3 linked regions of the Homo sapiens genome follow. The protein of the gene in region 1 interacts with the protein of each later gene in a pairwise test. Each region holds a gene or a part of one and is shown in the gene's direction. Other genes may lie near its edges.

Region 1 (7,024 bases):
GCGGTGGTGCACATCTGTCGTCCCAGCTACTTGGGGGGGCTGAGGCAGGAGGATCCCTTGAGCCCAGGAGGTCGAGACTGCAGTGAGCTGCGACCGCGCCACTGCACTCCAGGCTGAGCGACAGAGTGAGACCCTGTTTCAAAAAAACAAAAAAAAAGCACATTTCAAACATACACAAAAGCAGAGAGAATTCCCCTCGGTCCTCCGGCCTGCACCCCACCGCCCCCCACCACAGGGGCATTCAAAACTGTCTTTTTGCCTCTCTGTAAGGTAAGGGGGGACTCTTGACGCTCCCCAGACCACACAGCCAAAGTAGGGCGATCGGATCATAGGGGGTCCCGAGTCGGACACTGAGCTGGCGTGCCCACTCTCGAGTCCTGGGACCCCAAACTAAAGGAGCTGTTCCTTTTCCCCATGGAGGGCTGACGGGGCAAAATCCCAGGGCTGGGAACATCCGAGCAGCTTTGAGTAGCACAGGTGGGTTTCTACGTGGCTTTCTTTAAAGGGAGGCCTGATTCTCGGCTTTTCAGGACCCGCCCTCCATTTTCTCACTTGCCTGCTCTTTCGTCCTGCGAAACTGGGCAGTGGCCGGTGACAGCGCAGGGTCAGCCCTCGGATGGCCAGGTGGGCGTGATCCCACCCTCCTCCGTGGCTGGGTGGGCGTGGTCCCAAAGTCAATTGGATGTGGTCCCGCGTCCCTCCCGGCCCAGTGGGCGGGGCCTCCCCTTCTGGGGCCTCCCATCCCACACCAGCGAGCAGAGAGGAGGGTGGGCGGGGAGGCCCTACGGGGCTGGGGCGGGGCGGAGCGGAGGTGGTTAGCTGTCGGGAGGTGGGGTGGGCAGGGGCCAGGGCTCTGTTGGTGGCCCGGGGCAGCCAGTCCCTCTGCTCAGGGCTTCAGTTCACACTCACAAGGGAATCCCAGCGCTCTTCTCCTCTGGCGGTTGCTGGAGGGCCTTGTGAGGTGGCCGTGGGCACTGTAGCCCCCAGGCACTGCATTGTGGCCTGGGCGTGTTGGCCTTTGAGCCTTTGGCCTTGAGCACTTCCCCATCCCCCATGGCTCTTGGCCGTTGGGGCCCAGTTGGCCGCAGAGCCTTTGGCCTTGAGCACTTCCCCAGCCCCCATGGCTCTTGGCCATTGGACCCCAGTTGGCCACAGAGCCGCGGGCAGGTGGGACAGGCGGGCACTGGGTGCCTCCTTGCACCAGCCAGGCCCAGCCTGCAGAGTGGAGTGGGCCGGTCCCTCCTGCCAGGCAAAGGAAGGGGGCTTCGGGCCCCTCCCTGCTGTGGCCTCCTCCCCTCTGCTGCCTCCCACTAGGCCCTGGGAGACACTGCCTGCAGATTTATGAACAGACAGACCTAGAGATTAGAGATTCAAAAGCCAAATTCTTACACAATTCAAGTATTAACGCAGATTTGGATTTATAATTTGGGACTCCAAGGTCTACCAAGTAATTTGCTGTTTCAGAATAGCCCTTTTAATTTGGGGTATATATTTCTAACACTGTTTTTTAAATATGGAGAGTAAACAAAATGGCCCATTATCTGACCACACAAATACTAGTAGTCATTATAGATAAACCATAGCAGATAAATAATAGTAAACAAAGCAACAGGCTGTGTCATAGGAAATCCCCACCATGAAGAAAGGAGCAAGGTGGAAAGTTCTGGCTGCTTCAGGTCTGCATGGTCCCTCTCCACCATGGTTCCCCCTGTCATCTTCCTGCCAGAATAAGGACACTGTCCTTAGGGAAGCACCATCTCTTGTTTTTTCCCCACGAGCCCTGTGGGTCATGGCACGTCCTGCCCCGCTGGGAAACACAGTGGGCCACGGGTTTCCCTGCAGGCCTGGGACCCTTCCCAAGGGTAGCAGCAGAAGGCAGCACGATTCCCACTCCTGCAGCTGTGGACAGGGGCACCCCCACTGTCACTGAGCCCTGCACCGGGTTCCATCACCTGCTCGGGGCTCTGGCCTTTGGCCTTTTCCTGTGAGCTGCATGTTGGCCACTGTGACCTATCTGTCTCATCATCTTTTTCTTACTGGTTTGTGTATGTTCTTGGTAAACTAGCCCTTGGTCTTACACATCATTTCCAAGGTACTAAGGACTCTTCAGGGGAAATACAACTTGAGCAGAGTGGTTCCCTCCTCTTGTGGTTCACAAGGTGCAGGTGCACACACACATAGCCCACAGGGCAGTGTGGACAGGGACCAGGAGACTGCCCCTGGGGTCCCTGGCTGGGGGACACTAGTAGGGATGTCCCTTGGCCTCTCTGAGGCCTTCTGCTGTCTCTTCTGAGGCCGGAAAGGCGAAGCACTGCCCTCGCCCTGCTAGGGAAGGCTCAGGCCAGGCTGGCCCTATCCGGGGAAGGGGCTCAGGTATCTGGACCTTGGTCATCGCCAGGTTAGGGTTTATGTTGATGATTATCCAAAGGCAAAATTGATTTCCACAGAAATAACATCTGCTTTGCTGCCGAGCTCAGAGGAGACCCCAGACCCCTCCCGCAGCCAGAGGGCTGGAGCCTGCTCAGAGGTGCTTTGAAGGTGAGTTGGCCAACGGAAGCCGGGGCAGTGCCAGGGTGGGTACAGATTCCGGCCCGGTGCATGGGCACAGGTCTGCTGAGCACATGTCCACTCTGCCTGTGTAAATAGGCCACATGGCCTGAAATCCCCTAGAAGCCTGGTGTCCGCATGACCTCCCCCTAGGGCGGAGCCTCTGCTTCCCTGTTCTCTTCTGCTCTGTCCTCTGGTGCCCTGAGGCTGGCCTCCAGGGGTGTCCCCTCTGTGGCCCTAGGCCTGCCTCCTTGCCTGGGTGTGCCTTTCTAAAATGGAGCGTCCAGCAGAGAGTGGGATCTCCTATGCCACTGGGAGCCCAGGGCCCCATCCCAGAAAGACCTCTGAGTGAGCACAGGGGCCCTAGAAGAAGTTTCCTTGTGTCCTTCCCGTTTTAGGGTCTGTGACCTGAACCCCTGGGCTTCTGCCTCAGGCCTCCTGTGCTCTGCTCTCTGCCTGCTGGGTCCCCTCACCAGGCTTCTGTCTGGTTCCCAGGCTACCTGCCTGGAGGGTCACACCAGGAGGATTTCAAACAGGTTTCAAGTGGGGTCACTTGCCATCACTGTGCCCCACGAGGTACACTGTTGTGGGCGGCAGGGCTGGCCTTTCTCATCTGGGACATGCCACGTTGCTGTTCCCAAGGGGAGTGGTGAGTGGGTCTGTCCTGGTGTGCCTGGCCTGGGGACTGCCAGTGTCCTTACTTGGACACTCAATGAAAAGGCCACATGAATCCCTGGGGCGTCCAGAGCATGGGTGACCAGCACGGGCTCACCACATGAGGCCAAGGGGCTGCACCATACAGCCTCTCCTTTGGCCACCCGTGACTACCCCCAACTCCGGGCCATGGGGCTTCCCTACCCCTGGGTGTCCTCTAAGCCAGCTGGGAGACAACAGCCTGAGTCCGTGTCTGCTTCTGTATTTTGTGTGGTTTTAGAGGATCCCTGGGCTGCCTGGGGAAGCACCCAGGGCCAGGGAGTGTGACCCTGCAGGCTCCACACAGGACTGCCAGAGGCACACACCTGCTCTGTCTACCCGAGGGCACCAGAGGGCACGAGAAGGCTGGCTCCCTGGCGCTGACACGTCAGGCAACTGAGGCACAAGGCTGGCATTTCTGAACCTTGCCCCTCTGCAAACACAAGGGGGCGATGGTGGCACTCCAAGCAAAGGGGCGTGTGGGTGCTGCAGGAGGAGCACAGAGCACTGGCGCCCCTCCCCTCCCGCCCTGCAGATGCCGGAGGCCCCGCCTCTGCTGTTGGCAGCTGTGTTGCTGGGCCTGGTGCTGCTGGTGGTGCTGCTGCTGCTTCTGAGGCACTGGGGCTGGGGCCTGTGCCTTATCGGCTGGAACGAGTTCATCCTGCAGCCCATCCACAACCTGCTCATGGGTGACACCAAGGAGCAGCGCATCCTGAACCACGTGCTGCAGCATGCGGAGCCCGGGAACGCACAGAGCGTGCTGGAGGCCATTGACACCTACTGCGAGCAGAAGGAGTGGGCCATGAACGTGGGCGACAAGAAAGGTGGGGTCCGGGCCAGCAGGTGCTCAGCTCTGGGACAGGGACCCAGGACCAGGCATCAAAGCCCTTACAGGAGAAGCTGTTATCACCCCATTTCCAGGGGGCTGGGAACCCTGGGATATGCCCAGATAGGGCTGGGGGGCTCCTCTGGAGTCCCAGGGTGCCAGGGTCCCTGATGACCCCTGCAGGCCCTGCTGCCTGCTGCCCCAGGACAACAGGCCCCCACACTCACAGGGTCTGACGGTGGTGCAGTTCCCCTTGAACTCTGTTCTGGCCACCATGGGACCTGCCTGGGGACCAGTCAGACAGGTTCTCCTGGGCCCGCCTCCCGCTTGAACTTCAGCCTGGGGCACAGGATGTGTTACCGGGCTCACGGAGTGACTCAGGGAACTAGTGCCGCCCCAGGGCCCCAAGGTGGGCGGTTCGGTGATTCAGAGAGGGCAGCTCTGTGTTAGGACACACTGGGGCCAGCCAGGAAGGGTGGAAAAGATAGGGACCAGCGTGAGCATAGAGGCTAAGGGACCATGGGAGCTCCAAGCGCGCTCACAGTGGGGACCAGGTCCTGGGGGCTGGGGACACCAGGGAGGTGAAATACCCCTCCAGCGGGTAGGGAGGGTGGGCAGAGGAGGGCCAGCGGCCAGGCATTTGGGAGGGGCTCCTGCTCTTTGGGAGAGGTGGGGGGCCGTGCCTGGGGATCCAAGTTCCCCTCTCTCCACCTGTGCTCACCTCTCCTCCGTCCCCAACCCTGCACAGGCAAGATCGTGGACGCCGTGATTCAGGAGCACCAGCCCTCCGTGCTGCTGGAGCTGGGGGCCTACTGTGGCTACTCAGCTGTGCGCATGGCCCGCCTGCTGTCACCAGGGGCGAGGCTCATCACCATCGAGATCAACCCCGACTGTGCCGCCATCACCCAGCGGATGGTGGATTTCGCTGGCGTGAAGGACAAGGTGTGCATGCCTGACCCGTTGTCAGACCTGGAAAAAGGGCCGGCTGTGGGCAGGGAGGGCATGCGCACTTTGTCCTCCCCACCAGGTGTTCACACCACGTTCACTGAAAACCCACTATCACCAGGCCCCTCAGTGCTTCCCAGCCTGGGGCTGAGGAAAGACCCCCCCAGCAGCTCAGTGAGGGTCTCACAGCTCTGGGTAAACTGCCAAGGTGGCACCAGGAGGGGCAGGGACAGAGTGGGGCCTTGTCATCCCAGAACCCTAAAGAAAACTGATGAATGCTTGTATGGGTGTGTAAAGATGGCCTCCTGTCTGTGTGGGCGTGGGCACTGACAGGCGCTGTTGTATAGGTGTGTAGGGATGGCCTCCTGTCTGTGAGGACGTGGGCACTGACAGGCGCTGTTCCAGGTCACCCTTGTGGTTGGAGCGTCCCAGGACATCATCCCCCAGCTGAAGAAGAAGTATGATGTGGACACACTGGACATGGTCTTCCTCGACCACTGGAAGGACCGGTACCTGCCGGACACGCTTCTCTTGGAGGTGAGCCCCAACCAGGATGGCATCCGTGCCAGCTGCTGCCCAGAGCCCATTCAGTCAGCCTCAGCCTCTCCAAAGAGCCAGGCATTCCAGTAGAGCCCTGTGTGGACACAGCTCGCTCTGGAGGCACCACCTGAGGTCTGGGAGTGTGGGGGACTGAGGAGGCCCTGTGGTGGGTGGAGATGGGTGGGGAGCTGGGCCAGGGGCCTGGCTGGGTGGCCTGTTGGGAACTGGGGAGCCAGCTGCCTGTGCAGGTGCAAAATGGGTGGCAGAAGTGGGGTGCACACCCCAGACCAGACACCAGGGCAGAAACGGCACAGGACCAAGGAGATGGGGTGGGGAAGGGCCGCTCTGGGCCCAGCCTGCTCTCCCCCAAGCAAGCCACTGCTCGTGCAAAGAAAGCATGTGTCTCCTGCAGATCTTCCTCCTGAGGCCCCATCTTGTGCATTCCCCCAACCCAGCCCCACTGGCGAGGACCCTGAGTGCCCCGAGTGAGGCTAGACAGCGGGTGGGGCTGTCCTCGCTTCCCTGGGGGGCGTGGGGCACTGGTGGCCCTTCACAGACTGATGCTTAAGGAGCCTCACATCAGTGACACACTGCCCCATCCCTCCCTGGTGGTCAGCGACACTGAGTGGCTCTGTGATCCTCCACTGGGCTTGGGACACCCACCCTCACGGCCTCCCCACCTGGTGCTCGCTCACCTGCAGCTCTCCCAGAAACTGGACACTGCTGTTAGCAGCCGGACTAGGAGCACGAGGGGCACAGCCCCCATGCCTGGCTAGGTAGGGCCGCTGGACCCTGGACACGGATTGGAAGGAACCAGCACTAGCAGAAGCCTGAGGTGTGAAAGGGCAGAGAATGTTCCAGGAACAATGGGAGTCAGGGCACACAGGACTTTGGGCAGGTGAGGATGAGGTTAGACCTGTCTTCTGGAGCTGGGCTCAGGGGCTCATGCCTGTAACCCTTGCACTTTGGGAGGCTACGGCAGGAGGAGCGCTTGAGGCCAGGAGAGTTCGAGACCAGCCTGGGCAACATGGCAAAAGAAAAAATATATATATATATTTTAGATGGAGTCTTGCTCTGTCACCAGGCTGGAGTGCAGTGGCACGATCACGGCTCACTGCAACCTCCACCTCTTGGGTTCAAGCGATTACCCTGCCTTAGCCTCCTGAGTAGCTGGGACTACAGGCGCGCGCTGCCACACCCGGCTAGTTTTTTGTAGTTTAGTAGAGATGGGGTTTCACCACATTGGCCAGGATGGTCTCAATATCCTGACTTCGTGATCCGCCCGCCTCGGCCTCCCAAAGTGCTGGGATTACAGGCGTGAGCCACTGCGTCCGGCCGTATTCCAGCTTTCAAAACAACAAAAAACAACAAAAACTTTTCTGGAAAGATCCCTGTCAGCCTTGTGGAGTGTGGAGAGGGCTGTGGGGAGGGCATTTCAGATGCCCTGAACTCACGAGGAGGCACTGAACCCTG
Region 2 (7,426 bases), on another chromosome or scaffold:
CGGGCGCCTGTAGTCTCAGCTACTCAGGAGGCTGAGGCAGGAGAATCACTTGAACCTGGGAGGCCGAGGTTGCAGTGAGCTGAGATCATACCATTGTGCTCCAGCCTGGGCAACAAGAGCGAAACTTCGGCTCACAAAAAAAAAAACAAAAAAACATAAAGGACTTAGAACAGTGCACATAGTAGCTGGGCACACAATAAGCCCTACATAATGACAGCTTTTTTTTTTTTTTTTGAGACAGAGTCATGGGGTTTCACCATGCTGGCCATGCTGGTCTTGAACTTCTGACATTGTGATCTGCCAACCTTGGCCTCCCAAAGTGCTGGGATTACAGGCGTGAGCCACTGCGCCGGGCCAATGACAGCTATTATTATGAGATGCAGAAGTGAAAAGAAGGCTTTGTCATTTCTGTCATAATAATTCTTTTTTTTTTTGAGACAGATTCTCATTCTGTTGCCCAGGCTGGAGTGTAGTGGCACGATCTCGACTCACTGCAGTCTCTGCCTCCCGGGTTCAAGCGATTCTTGTGCTTTAGCCTCCCAAGTATTTTTTTTTTTTTTTGAGACGGAGTCTCGCTCTGTCTCCCAGGCTGGAGTGTAGTGGTGTGATCATGGCTCACTACAACTTCCGCCACCCAGGTTCTAGCAATTTTCCTGCCTCAGCCTCCAGAGTAGCTGGGATTCCCGCCACCATGTCTAGCTAATTTTTGTATTTTTAGTGGGGGGGTATTTCACCATGTTGGCCATGCTGGTTGTGAACTCCTGACCTCAGGTGATCCACCTGCCTTGGCCTCCAAAACATCATAATAATTCTTTCTTTTTTGGGACAGAGTGTCGGTCTGTCACCCAGGCTGGAGTGCAGTGGCGTGATCTTGGCTCACTGCAACCTCCATCTCCCGGGTTCAAGCGATTCTCCTGCCTCAGCCTCCCGAGTAGCTGGGACTACAGGCACGCACCACCATGCCCGGCTAATTTTTGTATTTTTGGTAGAGACGGAGGTTTCACCATGTTGGCCAGGCTGGTCTCGAACTCCTGACCTTGTGATCCACCCACCTCGGCCTCCCAAAGTGCTGGGATTACAGATGTGAGCCACTGCGCCTGGCCCATCATAATAATTCTTGAAGGTAAATATAAAAGCTAGGCAGGGCGGGGTGGCTCACATCCCAGCACTTTGGGAGGTGGAGGCGGGTGGATCGATCACAAGGTCAGGAGTTCCAGACCAGCCTGGCCAACATGGTGAAACCCCGTCTCTACCAAAAATACAAAAATTAGCTGGGCGTGGTGGCGTGCGCCTGTAGTCCCAGCTACTCAGGTGGCTGAGGCAGGAGAATCGTTTAAACGGGAAGGCGGGGGTTGCAGTGAGCCGAGATCATGCCACTGCCCTCCAGCCTGGGCAACAAACTGACACTCCGTCTCAACAACAACAACAACAACAACAACAAGAATATATACATAAACGCTAAATTTTGGCCAGGCGTGGTGGCTCATGCCTGTAATCCCAGCACTTTGGGAGGCCGAGGTGGGCGGATCACCTGAGGTTAGGAGTTCGAGACCAGCTTAGCCAACATAGTGAAACTCCGTCTCTACTAAAAAGACAATAATTAGCTGGTCGTGGTGGTGGGCGCCTGTAATCCCAGCTACTCGGGAGGCTGAGGCAGGAGAATCACTAGAATCTGGGAGGCTGAGGTTGCAGTGAGCCAAGATCACGCCACTACACTCCAGCCTGGGCAACAAGAGCAAAACTCCATCTCAAAAAAAAAAAAGCTAAATTTCAAAATAAGGGAGGATCGCTGGGCGTGCTGGCTTATGCCTGTAATCCCAGAATTTTGAGAAGGGGAAACAAGATGATCACTTGAGGCCAGGAGTTCAAGACCATGGTGACAATACAGTGAGACCCTGTCTCTATTTACAAAAACAAAAACACCATCCTCGGCAACATAGTGAGACCCCTGTCTCTACAAAAAAGAAAAAAGGAAAATTAGCCAGGTGCGGTGGGGCACACATGTAGTCCCAGCTACTTGGGAGGCGGGGGTGGGAGCATTGCTGGAGCTCAGGAGGTTGAGGCTGCAGTGAGCTGTGGTCACACCACTGCACTCCAGCCTGGGTAATATAGTAAGACCCTGTCTCAAAACAAAACAAAAACGTAATTAGGCCGGGCATGGTGGCTCACGCCTGTCATCCCAGCTACTCGGGGGATCGCTTGAACCCAGGAGGTGGAGGTTGCAGTGAGCCGAGAGCGCACCACTGCACTCCCCATTAGGCAACAGAGAGAGGCCACCAGGCCCAGCTAATTTTTTTGTATTTTTAGTGGAGACGGGGTTTCTCCATGTTGGCCACGCTGGTCTTGAATTCCTGACCTCAGGTTATCCGTGGCCTCGGCCTCCCAAAGTGCTGTGATGACAGGTGTGAGCCACAGTGCCTGGCCAGCGAGGCTCGGTCTTAAAAAGAACAACAAAACAAAACAAAACAATATAAAGGAGGAGCGTATTTATAGTTAGTTTGATTTAAAAATTGGGCGGGCGCGTTGGCTCACGCCTGGAGTCCCAGCACTTTGGGATGCTGAGGCGGGTGGATCATGAGGTCAGGAGATTGAGACCATCCTGGCCAACATGATGAAAACCTGTATGTACGAAAAACACAAAAATTAATTGGGTGTGGTGGCACGTGCCTGTAGTCCCAGCTACTCGGGCGGCTGAGGCAGGAGAATCCTTTGAACCAGGGGAGTCGAGGTTGTGGTGAGCCGAGATCGCGCCACTGCACTCCAGCCTGGTGACAGAGCGAGACTCTGTCTCTAAATAAATAAATAAAATAAAATAAAATAAAAATCATGGTTAATTTATGAAGGTCTCTATCAAATTTACTTTGAAATGATTACAGTCTGTCATAACTTGCTGACTTCCTTGTACCTAAAGAAATTTAGCAAGTACCTTTTCTTAGTGTCATGCATTTATTAACTGAGTACTTATTATATGGTAGGCACTGCTATAAGCTGTAGAGTATCTAGCCAGTCAAAAAGGAAAAAATTCCCTGCCCATATGGAGTTTACTATCTAGTGTCATCTCCACTCTTACTGTTAACACAGCCCCAGAGATTTTACTTTTACAAATAAATTCTATCTTTGTCTTACATTCGTGATTTCCTTCCACTTCTGACATGTCTTACAGCTGAAGGATTCAAGAAATGGTGTAGCACAAGCCAACCCTCGTCTCAGTTCTGAGATGAGTGGGTAAAATGTGAAAGGAAAGAAAGAAATGCAAGGCACAGAGGTGGAACATGGTTTTGCTGAGCCCATTCTCCTTTCATAAATCACACACAGGATCCAGGTGCTAATGTGAATGTTGAAATAAGCAGATTTAGCAAGAACTGCTGCTTTGGCTTTTTTATATCCAGAACTAAAAAAGAACTGAACCATGTAGTTATCATTTGAGGTTTACTAACTATACCAGCAATATTGCCTCCAAGCTGTGTTGCCTGGTGTTTCTCTTAGAAATGCTAAGTTGCTTGGGCAATGGTTTAAGGAGGGTGTCTATACCTTAGTGATTTATTTTGGTAATTCTCAAACTTTTCAATACAAAAATCTCCTTTTCTAAAAAGAATTTATAGTGTCTGATATTCACCTAGGGACATATATTTTGAAAGCTATTGCTTACAAAGACAGGATATTGATTTAAATAATAAACAATTCTATTTTATTTATTTATTTATTTAGAGACGGAGTTTCACTCTTGTTGCCCAAGCTGGAGTGCAATGGCGCGATCTCGGCCTCCCAGGTTCAAGCGATTCTCCTGCCTCAGCCTCCCGAGTAGCTGGGATTACAGGCGCGTGCCAGCACGCCCAGTTAATTTTTTTGCATTTTTAGTAGAAACGGGGTTTCATCATGTTAGCCAGGATGGTCTCGAACTCCTGACTTCAGGTGATCTGCCCGCCTCGGCCTCCTAAACTGCTGGGATTACAGGCATGAGCCACCGCGACCGGCTTTCAAAAATGTTTAATTGTACAATATCCTCCTCCTTTGCTTTTTTTTTTGTTGTTGTTCTTGGTGTTGGGAAGTCAGGACGTGGGATGGGAGACAATATTCTGAAGAAAATGCATCTCGTGTCCCTTTCAGGCTTGAGCAGCCCACCTCTCTACACCTGGAGGCGCTTTTCCTGATGGCTGTCCAAGTCTAGCGGCGCGCGCACTTAACCCCTCCCTCCCGTCTAGCCCCGCCCCTCAACTCCTGTCCGCTAGAGTCGTCCTGCCCAAGACCAGGGCGGGTTCTCGCTGCAATCCCACAATCGGCCACAGGGAGGGGACGGTGGCTGTAGAAGCCGAAGGGCCTTCCCCTAAGTAGGAGGTGGCGGAAGCGGAAAAGGCGGGACCTAGGGAGCACGTTACGTCCGGACGCGTCGGTGGTAGGGCTGGGTCTCCGAACCTGAAACCGGGAGCTTCCTGCTCGTGTTCGCTGTTGAGAAGCTACCCGCGGGGTTGTAGACCTCGGACCTCATGGCAGAGATAATTCAGGAACGCATAGAAGATCGGCTCCCGGAATTGGAACAGCTGGAGCGCATTGGACTGTTCAGTCATGCGGAGATTAAGTGAGAGAGGGTTGGGGAGAGGGAAGAGCTGAGGCGGCCTGAGGGGAGGTTGGGAGTGTGTGGCAGGGGCTAGATGTGGGGACGCTCGACCTGTGTTTACTTTTCCTAACGTGGTGGAAGCCCATTTCTCGTTTTCGGTGATGTCCAGAATTAATTTTTCATTCGTTGCAAGGTAATCCGTCCGTCTACTTACCCATCAGACGTTTTGACAGCCCTTCATGGAGCCGGGTCTTAGGGCTGTAAAGGTGATAAACCCAGGATTCCTGCTCATTAGGAGCTAATTGGGCAGAGTGTGGTGGGGGAGACAGACAAATTAAATATTTTGATAACAGTGTACTGTAAGTTGATTGTAGTACCTTGTACTGCTGTAGGGATGGGAACAGAGTGCTGTGAGAGCCCAGGGGGAGTGGATAAATTCCTAACTAGACTTGAAGGTGGGGACCATTGAAATCAGTTTCATATGCTACTCCAGAGCCTAACTACAGCGCCTGGCACATGGTAGACATTCAGTAGCGTGTTAAAATTATGTTTAATAGTTTTTAATGGTTTCTGTGACTGTTGCTTTGTTTTGCAACGTCTGAATGTAGTAATGTGACTCAGAGCTTCAAAGTAAGCATTCGTTAATGAAACACAAAACAAAGCAGTGTGGACGCTTAGAAAGTGCTCAGTTAAGGTTAATGTTACCATTACTAAAGACACCTGTCTTGCACATCTTGCATTAAATTCTCCTAATATATATTTGTCATATGTTCATTCCTTAGCTAAGGACTCTGAATCTTCTCCCGTAAGTCCTTCGTAGTAATAAGTCTTTTAAGGCAGACGCAATTTAGATTTTTAAAAAAATTTACATGTTGAGAACTCAGAAATAAGAGGAATTTCGGAAAGAAATTTATTATTAAAATTTAAGTGACCTGAACTTGGAGTAAAAGAAGTCTTTATTAATACCAGCCAGGCGCTGTGGCTCACGCCTGTAATCCCAGCACTTTGGGAGGCCGAGGTGGGTGGATCACGAGGTCAGGAGTTCGAGACCAGCCTGGCCAATATGGTGAAACCCCGTCTCTACTAAAAATACAAAAATTAGCTGAGCGTGGTGGTGAGCGCCTGTAGTCCCAGCTACTCGGGAGTCTGAGGCAGGAGAATCGCTTGAACTCGGGAGGCCGAGGTTGTAGTGAGCCAAGATCATGCCACTGCACTCCAGCCTGGGCGACAGAGCGAGAAAAAAACAAACAAAAAAAACACCATACATAAATGGTATAAAGTTCTTAATTGTATTTGCTTTGCTGGTGGGAATGTCATTGGTTTTGGGAGTTGATTAAGATGATTTTCCTGAAAGTTTAAAAATGAACCCTTAAGAACACAAAAGTAATTGTGTAAGAGAATACTTTTTTTTTTTGAGATGGAGTCTTGCTCTGTCGCCAGGCCAGAGGGCAGTGGCGCGATCTCGGCTTACTGCAACCTCCGCCTTCCAGGTTCAAGCAATTTTCCTGCCTCAGTCTCCCGAGTAGCTGGGACTACAGGCACGCACCACCACGCCCAGCTAATTTTTGTATTTTTAGTAGAGATGCAGTTTTACCATGTTGACCAGGGTGGTCTCAGTCTCTTGACCTCTTGATCTACCCGCCTCAGCCTCCCAAAGTGCTGGGATTCCAGGCATGAGCCACTGTGTCCGGCCGATAATACTTTCTTATGAAAGATAACTCTAGGAATTTCGTATTTTGAAAAACATGTTTTAAATATATTCAAAATAAACTTAAACGTTTAATTTTTGCAGTTTTCAAGTGAAGTTTAAATGGCTTTCTCCTCAGGGCTATCATTAAGAAGGCTTCCGATCTAGAGTACAAAATCCAGAGAAGAACCCTTTTCAAGGAAGACTTTATCAATTATGTTCAAGTAAGTGTGTAATTAATAATTTCTTTCTTTTTTTCTTTTTTGTTTTTTGGTGAGATGGCATCTCACTCTGTCACCCAGGTTGGAGTGCAGTGGTGTGAATGGTGTGATCTCTGCTCACTGCAACCTCTGCCCTCCAGGCTCAAGCGATTCTCCTACCTCAGCCTCCTGGGTAGCTGGGACCATAGATGCATGCCACCATGCCTGGCTAATTTTTTGGTAGAGACTGGGTTTTGCCACATTGCCCAGGCTGATCTCAAGGGATCCACCCACCTTGGCCTCTCAAAGTGCTGGGCTTACAGGTGTGAACCACAGTGCCCGGCCAATAATTAATAATTTCATTACTTTTTTTTGAGGCAGGGGCTCGCCTTTCACCCAGGCTGAAGTGCAGTGGTGCCATCATGGCTCAGTGTAGCTTCCACCTCCTGAGCTGAAGCCATCCTCCCACCTCAGCCTCTGGAGTAGCTGGGACTACAGGTGTGTGCCAGTATGGCTGGCTAGCTTTTGTGTTTTTTGTAGAGACAGGGTTTCGGCATGTTGCCCACGCCCAAAATGCTGGGATTACAAGTGTTTGTGAGCCACCGGGCCCAGCCTTACTTTTTTTATTTTTGTTTTTGAGACAAGAGTCTTGCTCTGTCACCCAGGCTGGAGTGCAGTGGCGCGATCTTGGCTCACTGCAACCACTGCCTTCCGGGTTCTAGTGATTCTCAAGTCTCATCCTCCTCAGTAACTGGGATTACAGGCGTATGGCACCGCACCCAGCTACTTTTAGTAGAGACTGGGTTTTGCCATGTTGGCTAGGCTGGTCTCGAACTCCTGGCCTCAAGCAATCCACCAGCATCGGCCTCCCAAAGCGAGTGCTATGATTACAGGCATGAGGCATCATGCTCGGTCCTAGCCTTACTTTTTAATCCCTTCACAAATTGATTGATTGGTTGATTAATTGAAATAGAGTCTCTCTGT
Region 3 (7,024 bases), on another chromosome or scaffold:
CAAGGCTAGTTGCCTACTACGCTGGTCTAGAACTACTGGCGTGAAGCCATCCTCTTGCCTTGACCTCCCAAAGTGTTGGGCTTACAGGCATTAGCCACTGTGCCCAGCCTGCCACATCTTAATTTTTAAATGTTTGTTTGTTTGTTTGTTTGTTTATTTGAGATGGGGTCTCTCTCTCTCTCTTGTCCAGGCTGGAGTGCAGTGGTGCAATCATGGCTCATTGCAGCCTCAACCTCGTGGGCTCAAGCAATCCCCCTGCCTCAGCCTCCCAAGTAGCTGGGACCACAGGTGCACACCACCACACCTGGCTTTATTTATTTATTTATTTTTTTTGTAGAGATGGGGTCTCACCATGTTGCCCAGCCTGGTCTTGAACTCTGGGGGTCAACTGATCCTCCTGCCTCAGCCTCCCAAAGTACTGGGATTACAGTCATGAGCCACTGTGCCTAAGCCTAATTTTAAAATACTTAAAGCATTGAAAAGGAAATAGAAGAATGAGAAATGTTAAAGTGTACATGTATTACTATTTCATCACCTGTTTGATAAAATTGTGTATGTTATTTTAGAAGGTAATTAAGTTTAGTTTCAGACTTATTTGTACAGAGAAGAAAATCTACAGCTATAGGCCCTCTACAAAATGTCACGTTGTGACTCTACAGCTTGTACATGGAAAAATAAATCACATCAGATCATCTTGAGGTGACCACCTGACCAAAGGTAGAATGGAAAAATTAGCATCATGTATAGAAACAGGAATACAATTTTTAATATTATTGGTCCTTTTTGTATATGTGAAATTTACTTTCAAAGTAGCATAACTCATTGGATAAATCAAATATATAATGGCAGTTTTTCCCTTTACATTAGCTTCTAGGGCTGCACATGAAGTTCTGAAAAGCTGCTCATGGTCCGGGGCCTAAAAGTTGACCCTAAACTTGTGAAATTACATAAGGAGCGTATTTATTACTAAAATAAGTTGACTGAAACCGTAAAGGCCTTTATAGAGAAAGTCGTCACCCTTAGTTTAGTAACTGTTAATAGTAAAGCAGATAGAGTGCTTATGACGTAGTATTATGTGATAAAATAGATATAAAAAATGTATTATGTGATAAAATAGACATACATTGTATAGAAAATATAACCTTATGATATAATGAAAAATGCAGTCAAAAGACTGAAAGTCCATGCAAAATGTTTTTTTTATTTTTGTGTAATGAGATTGCTTCCCCTTACAACTGTATACTTTTTCATTCTAGTTTTCTACAATGAAAATGCATTACTTTGAATAGAAAAGAAGCCTCAGAAATGTAAAATAATTAACTTGTTACCAATTTTTGCATTTTGACACTTAGTGAAACCTGCTTTTTGATAGCACTTAAGGTTATCAAGATACGGATAACTCCCCTTGTTACATTGGAGAAAGAGGTCATAATCGGTAAATTTGCATCTATAAATTTAGAAACAAACTTTGCCAAGTTTTCTGGCTAGTTTCTTTTCATTCGTCCTCAGTAATAGACACTAATGCTAGTTTCTTAACCAGTGAACCAGTATCACCTTTGTATTTGGTTGATTGATTTTCTCCCAGCTTGGTTTTATTTATGTTTTAACTCTACTTTTTCCACGCACTACTGTCAGAAGTTATTTAAAGAGAGATGCATTATTTAGGTTTGAGAGTTTTTAGGGCAATAATCATTCCATTATACTCATGGATTTCTGCCCCTTTGGGTGCAAATTATTTTATATTTGCCAAGCGCTTATTCAGGTGTTTCACCTTAACTAAAAGCTTTCTTTCCCCAGATACAGGGCTTCTCCTACAGTCATCTATACTTTTTTCTATCTCTTTGGCTCTTGTAACCCACTAGGCAAAAAGGGGCAGTTGGCATAGGACTTGACCTGTACTGCTACAACTTGACCATTTTTGGTAAGAGTAACTAATACTTATTATCAATCGTGTGCCAGGCACTGTTTAACGCTTTATATGCATCATCTCAAGTAATCTTTACAATAATCTTCTGAAGTAGGTACTTTTATTGATCAAATGTTGTCTAGAGAAGTTAAGTAACTTGTAACTTCAATGGTATACATCTAAGAAGTGAACTTATCAGGATAGGAACCTAGGCCTTCCCAACTCAGAGAAAATTTTAAACATTATCACCATCAATAGATAACTTATTCTCTTTTGACATCAGGTCATCTAATTATACTGGCCTTTCTTTAACTTTGCCACAGAGAAAGATGAAATAAAGAGAGCTGAGTCCTTTGAAAACTTTATCTTCATTCACATTCATGTTGGCCCATCCAACATGGCCTCATTGTTCTTAACTTCTTCAGCTTCAGTAACATCAGCACTCTACTTCAGTTTTTCTAGGATCTTAGTAGTAGGAGTGATTCTCTTGCTGAGATTTCACCAGCAGAACTAGTCTCTGGTTGATTTAACCTCCTCTGTGATTCTTGTTCTAACAAACATACTGTTACATAATGCTCATCACCTGGTCCTTTGACTCCCTCCCTTTTCCTCCAAGTACATAGACATGCTTTCTTGTTTCCTCATTTCATAAGGTCTCTCTCTAGGTTTGTCTGTACCCATTCTCAAACTTATTTATAATTAGGAATTTCACTGATGCCTAATACTGTTTTTTTCAGCCTCTTGTTGTATTTCTGGATAAATCCATTGTTGTGGTCTGTTTGTGCCTTTCCCCAGCTGTCACTTAGCTTGGTGATATGGAGAGTCACAGAAGTTTGCTGATTAGATACAATGCTTTCATTAATCTCTTGTTTATTCCCCATTACATTTTCAGATTTTCCACAGCATTTCCAGAACTTTAACTTAGGGCTGGCAGCTCCTGAACCAGTCATTTGGCAGAAGGATGCCATTACCATGTATTAGTTTAGACAGTTTGAAACTTGACCTCGGATCTACGGGAAAGAATATTGGAGAGTCAACCTGCAATGTGTAATGGTTGCTGTGACACTGTTTACCTTTACACAGTCCACTTTTATCAGCAGCATTACTTTGTAATTGCTTTAGAACTGGCTTTTATTCCCATATGCCCATTTGATGAAACTTACCTAGTTTATTATTCATTCACATAGCATATATTAAATTTCACTGTGCCACTTCATTTATTTCATTTTATTATAAAAGTAGTTACAAAAGTTACATGCTCATGGTAAAAAATGGGAAAGGTTATAAAATTAAAAGTAAAATTTTCTTCAACTCCGACCCAGTAGTCCAACTCTCCAGGTGTAAGTACTGTTTCGTGTGTATCCATACAGAAAATCAGAAAAATTAATGCATATGTATCATTTTTTCTTCTCTTATACTGTATCCTATAGATAATGCTCAGCATTTTTTTTCCACTTAATAACTTATCCTGGAGATTTTTTCCTATAATTTTAGATAAATGTCACCTTTTTTTAAACATTTGCACATTTCATTGTGTTGATTTACTGTGAATTATCAAGTGTCCTACAATGTACATTTAGTTATGAATTAAGTGCCCTATTAATATATAATTAGTTATGAATGAAGTGCCTTATTAATACATAGTTATTTGCAGTTTTTTGGCTGTTACAAGTAGTGCTGTAATAAACTATATCTTTGTGTTGTTCAGAATTTAATACATAGTAGGGATTGCTATGGCCCATAGTTGGGCACCTTGTTTGTAAATAAAATTGTATTGGAACACAGCCATACCCATTTGTTTGTATGTTGTCTATGGCTGCTTTCAAACTAGAGTAGATGAATGAAATGGTTGTAACACCATTTCACAATGGCTCACAAAGCTGAAAATAATTTACTGCCTGACTCTTTAAGACAAAGTTGGCTGGCCCCTCATGTGTAGTATATATTCTTAGAAATGGAATTGCTAGGTCAAAGAGTATGCATGTTTTAAATTTAAATTCTAAATAAAAGTTCAAATTTTTTTTTGCCAAATTACCATCCAAAAGGTCGACCTAATATACAATTTGACAGTATATGAGAGCATATGTTTTCATCAGTTATTTCTTACCAAGAGTAGTTTTTATCAAAGAAAAAACTTATCCAACAGGTGAAAAATGGTATCACATCATTTTGTTTTGCATTTCTCTAATTATGACAAGTTGGGTATATTTTTAGAGGTTTTCTGGGGGGTAATTTACATATTTTCTGTTGTCATTTTGTGATTTTTGCCTACTTTAAAAAATTATTCATGTTTTTCTTCCAGATTGTAAAGTTATTTTACATATAAAACAAAGTAGCTCTATTTTTGTCATGTGTTAGAGTGTTTTTCTTATTTGTATTTTATCTGTTTGTGATATTTTTTCCATATAGATATGCTAATCTTTTTCCCCTTGTTTTATTATGAAAAATATGAAGCAGAAAGTATTGAAAGAATAATATAACTGACATCCATATACTCTTTCCTTAGAAACAAGTTGTTAATATTTTGCCACATTGACTTTTTTTCTTCCACATATATACCTATCCCGCTTGAATCATTTGAAAGTAAATTGCTGACATGACACTTTAACCCTAATGCTTCAGCATGAATCTAAGAATGAGGATATTCTCCTATGTAACCAAACTACCATTATCCTACCTAAGCCAATTAGCAGTGATTCCATGGTATCATCTAATGTACAATTTGCATTCAAAATTTCATTATTTTCTTAAAGGCTAGCTTTTTTTTAAAGTCAGGATCCATTCAGACTTCACACTTTACATTTGATCTATCACTTTAGTACTAATTGAGAACTGTCTTCTCTTGTTTGTTTCTATATATATGATACTGACTTTTTAAAAACAGCTTTATTAGCAATATAGTGATATATGATAAGTTGTACATAAAGTATACAGTTTGATTAGTTTTGATGTATATAAGCCGGTGAAGCTATCATCACAGTCAAGAGAGTGTGGCTGGGTGCGGTGGCTCACGCCTGCGCTCCTAGAACTTTAGGAGGCTGAGGCCCACTGATTGCTTGAGCTCAGGAGTTCGAGACTGGTCTGGCCAACATGATGAAACCTCATCTCTACAAAAAAATGCAAAAATTAGCCAGGACTGGTGGCATGTGCCTGTAGTCCCAGCTACTTGGGAAGCTGAAGTGGGATCATCTGAGCTTGGGAAGTTGAGGCTGTAGCGAGCTGTGATCATGCCACTGCACTCTAGCCTGGGCGACAGAGTGAGACCCTGTCCAAAAAAAAAACACAAAAAAATGGTAAACATATCCATCATCATACCCCTGAGATTGATTCATACCTCTGGAATATACAAATATTTGTATATTTTTCTTGGTTATAGATTTCTAGCTTGATAGTTGTTTTTTCCTTCTGGTATTTAAAAAATGTTGCACCACTGTCTTCTCACTTGCATTGTTTCTGATGAGAAATCTGCCTTTATCCTTATCTTTTTCCCTTTCTACATAGTGTGTCCTTTTTCCTGTGGCTGCTCTTGTGCGTTTGATTGTGATGCATCTTAATATGGTTTTCTTCATGTTTCTTGTATTGGGGTTCATAGAGTTCCTTGGATGCATGGGGTTTGTAGTTTTCATCAACTTTGGAACATTTTTGGCCATTTGTTCTTCACACATATTTTCTGCCCCACTTCTCTCTTCTCATTTGAGGACTCTAGTTACATATGTGTTTGGGTGGTTGAAGCTGTCTCACAGCTTATTGATGCTCTCTTTATTTTTTAAATTATTTTTTTCTTTGTGTTTTGAATAGTTTCTATTGCTGTATCTTCAAGGTTATTAATCTTTCCTTTGGTATCTACTCTTCAGTTAATCTTCTGGTATAATTTTCATCTCACATATTTTAGTAGTAGATTTCATCTCAAGAAATTTAATTTGTATTGATAAAAATATCTTTCATAATTCTACCTTTGGAATATATAGACTACAGTTATAATTTTTAACGTCCTTGTTTTCTAATTCTAACATCTGTTTCAGCTTAGGGTTGGTTTTGACTTTTTGACTTTTGAGTATACACGTTCCCTTGGGCTTCAGAGAGGTTCAACTTTGGCCTTCAGCCTCTTCATACTCATCTGGTGATTTTATTAACTTTTACAAATTTCACCTCTTAACTTTTGAGACAAATGGCTACCAGGTATATCTCTTTTTTCTCATCCTATCACTGAAACCTTGGTCATGGTATTTCTTTTTTTTTTTTGAGACAGAGTCTCACATTGTCGCCCAGGCTGGAGTGCAGTGGTGCGATCTCAGCTCACTGCAAGCTCCGCCTCCCAGGTTCATGCCATTCTCCTGCCTCAGCCTCCCGAGTAGCTGGGACTACAGGCGCCTGCCACTACACCCGGCTAATTTTTTTTGTATTTTTAGTAGAGACGGGGTTTCACCATGTTAGCCACGATGGTCTCGATCTCCTGACCTCGTGATCCGCCCGTCTCGGCCTCCCAAAGTGCTGGCATTACAGGCGTGAGCCACCACGCCCGGCCGGTCATGGTATTTCTAATAGTCTGTTGGACATCTTTTCAGCTCATTGACAGTTCATAGTTACCCTGGGTAAAACTGAGCCAGCTCTCCTTGATTTCTTCACTTAGGTATTGATAACACTATTCTCTTACTGTCATTTTGGACCTCACCCTTATTTTAGCCTATAATCCAATCCATTGTTTTATCCTTTTACTTCTGTCTTTGAAATAGTTTTTATACCTGTCTTTTCCTGTGGCTACCACACTTTATTAATTTTGACTTTGTTATGGACTGAAATTTTATGTCCCCACAAAATTTATATGTTGAATTCCTTTTTTTTTCTTTTTTGAGACGGAGTCTCGCTCTGTCACCCAGGCTGGAGTGCAGTGGTGCGATCTTGGCTCGCTGCATCCTCCACCCCCTATGTTCAAGCAATCCTCCTGCCTCACCCTCCTGAGTAACTGGGATTACAAGCACATGCCACCATGCCTGGATAATTTTTGTATTTTTAGTAAAGACTGGGTTTCACCATGTTGGCCAGGTTGGTCTCAAACTCCTGACCTCAGGTGATCCACCCACTTTGGCCTCCCAAAGTGCTGGGATTACAGGCGTGAGC

The links. The genes of interacting proteins can lie anywhere in the genome.
Region 2: the proteins of COMT (region 1) and UTP6 interact in binary tests that used the Homo sapiens proteins (3 or more experiments, as listed by UniProt).
Region 3: the proteins of COMT (region 1) and HIBADH interact in binary tests that used the Homo sapiens proteins (3 or more experiments, as listed by UniProt).

What each region holds. Positions count from the first base shown.
Region 1 is NC_000022.11:19,958,752-19,965,775, forward strand, and holds part of COMT (catechol O-methyltransferase), read left to right. Parts: intron 1-2,447; 5' UTR 2,448-2,538; intron 2,539-3,481; exon of another isoform or gene 3,482-3,775; coding exon 3,776-4,064; intron 4,065-4,814; coding exon 4,815-5,008; exon of another isoform or gene 5,009-5,083; intron 5,084-5,416; coding exon 5,417-5,548; intron 5,549-6,382; exon of another isoform or gene 6,383-7,024. UniProt on the Homo sapiens protein: Catalyzes the O-methylation, and thereby the inactivation, of catecholamine neurotransmitters and catechol hormones. Also shortens the biological half-lives of certain neuroactive drugs, like L-DOPA, alpha-methyl DOPA and isoproterenol.
Region 2 is NC_000017.11:31,898,686-31,906,111, reverse strand, and holds the start of UTP6 (U3 small nucleolar RNA-associated protein 6 homolog), read left to right. Parts: upstream 1-4,403; 5' UTR 4,404-4,484; coding exon 4,485-4,576; intron 4,577-6,381; coding exon 6,382-6,466; intron 6,467-7,426. UniProt on the Homo sapiens protein: Part of the small subunit (SSU) processome, first precursor of the small eukaryotic ribosomal subunit.
Region 3 is NC_000007.14:27,652,861-27,659,884, reverse strand, and holds part of HIBADH (3-hydroxyisobutyrate dehydrogenase, mitochondrial isoform 1 precursor), read left to right. Parts: intron 1-3,118; exon of another isoform or gene 3,119-3,253; intron 3,254-7,024.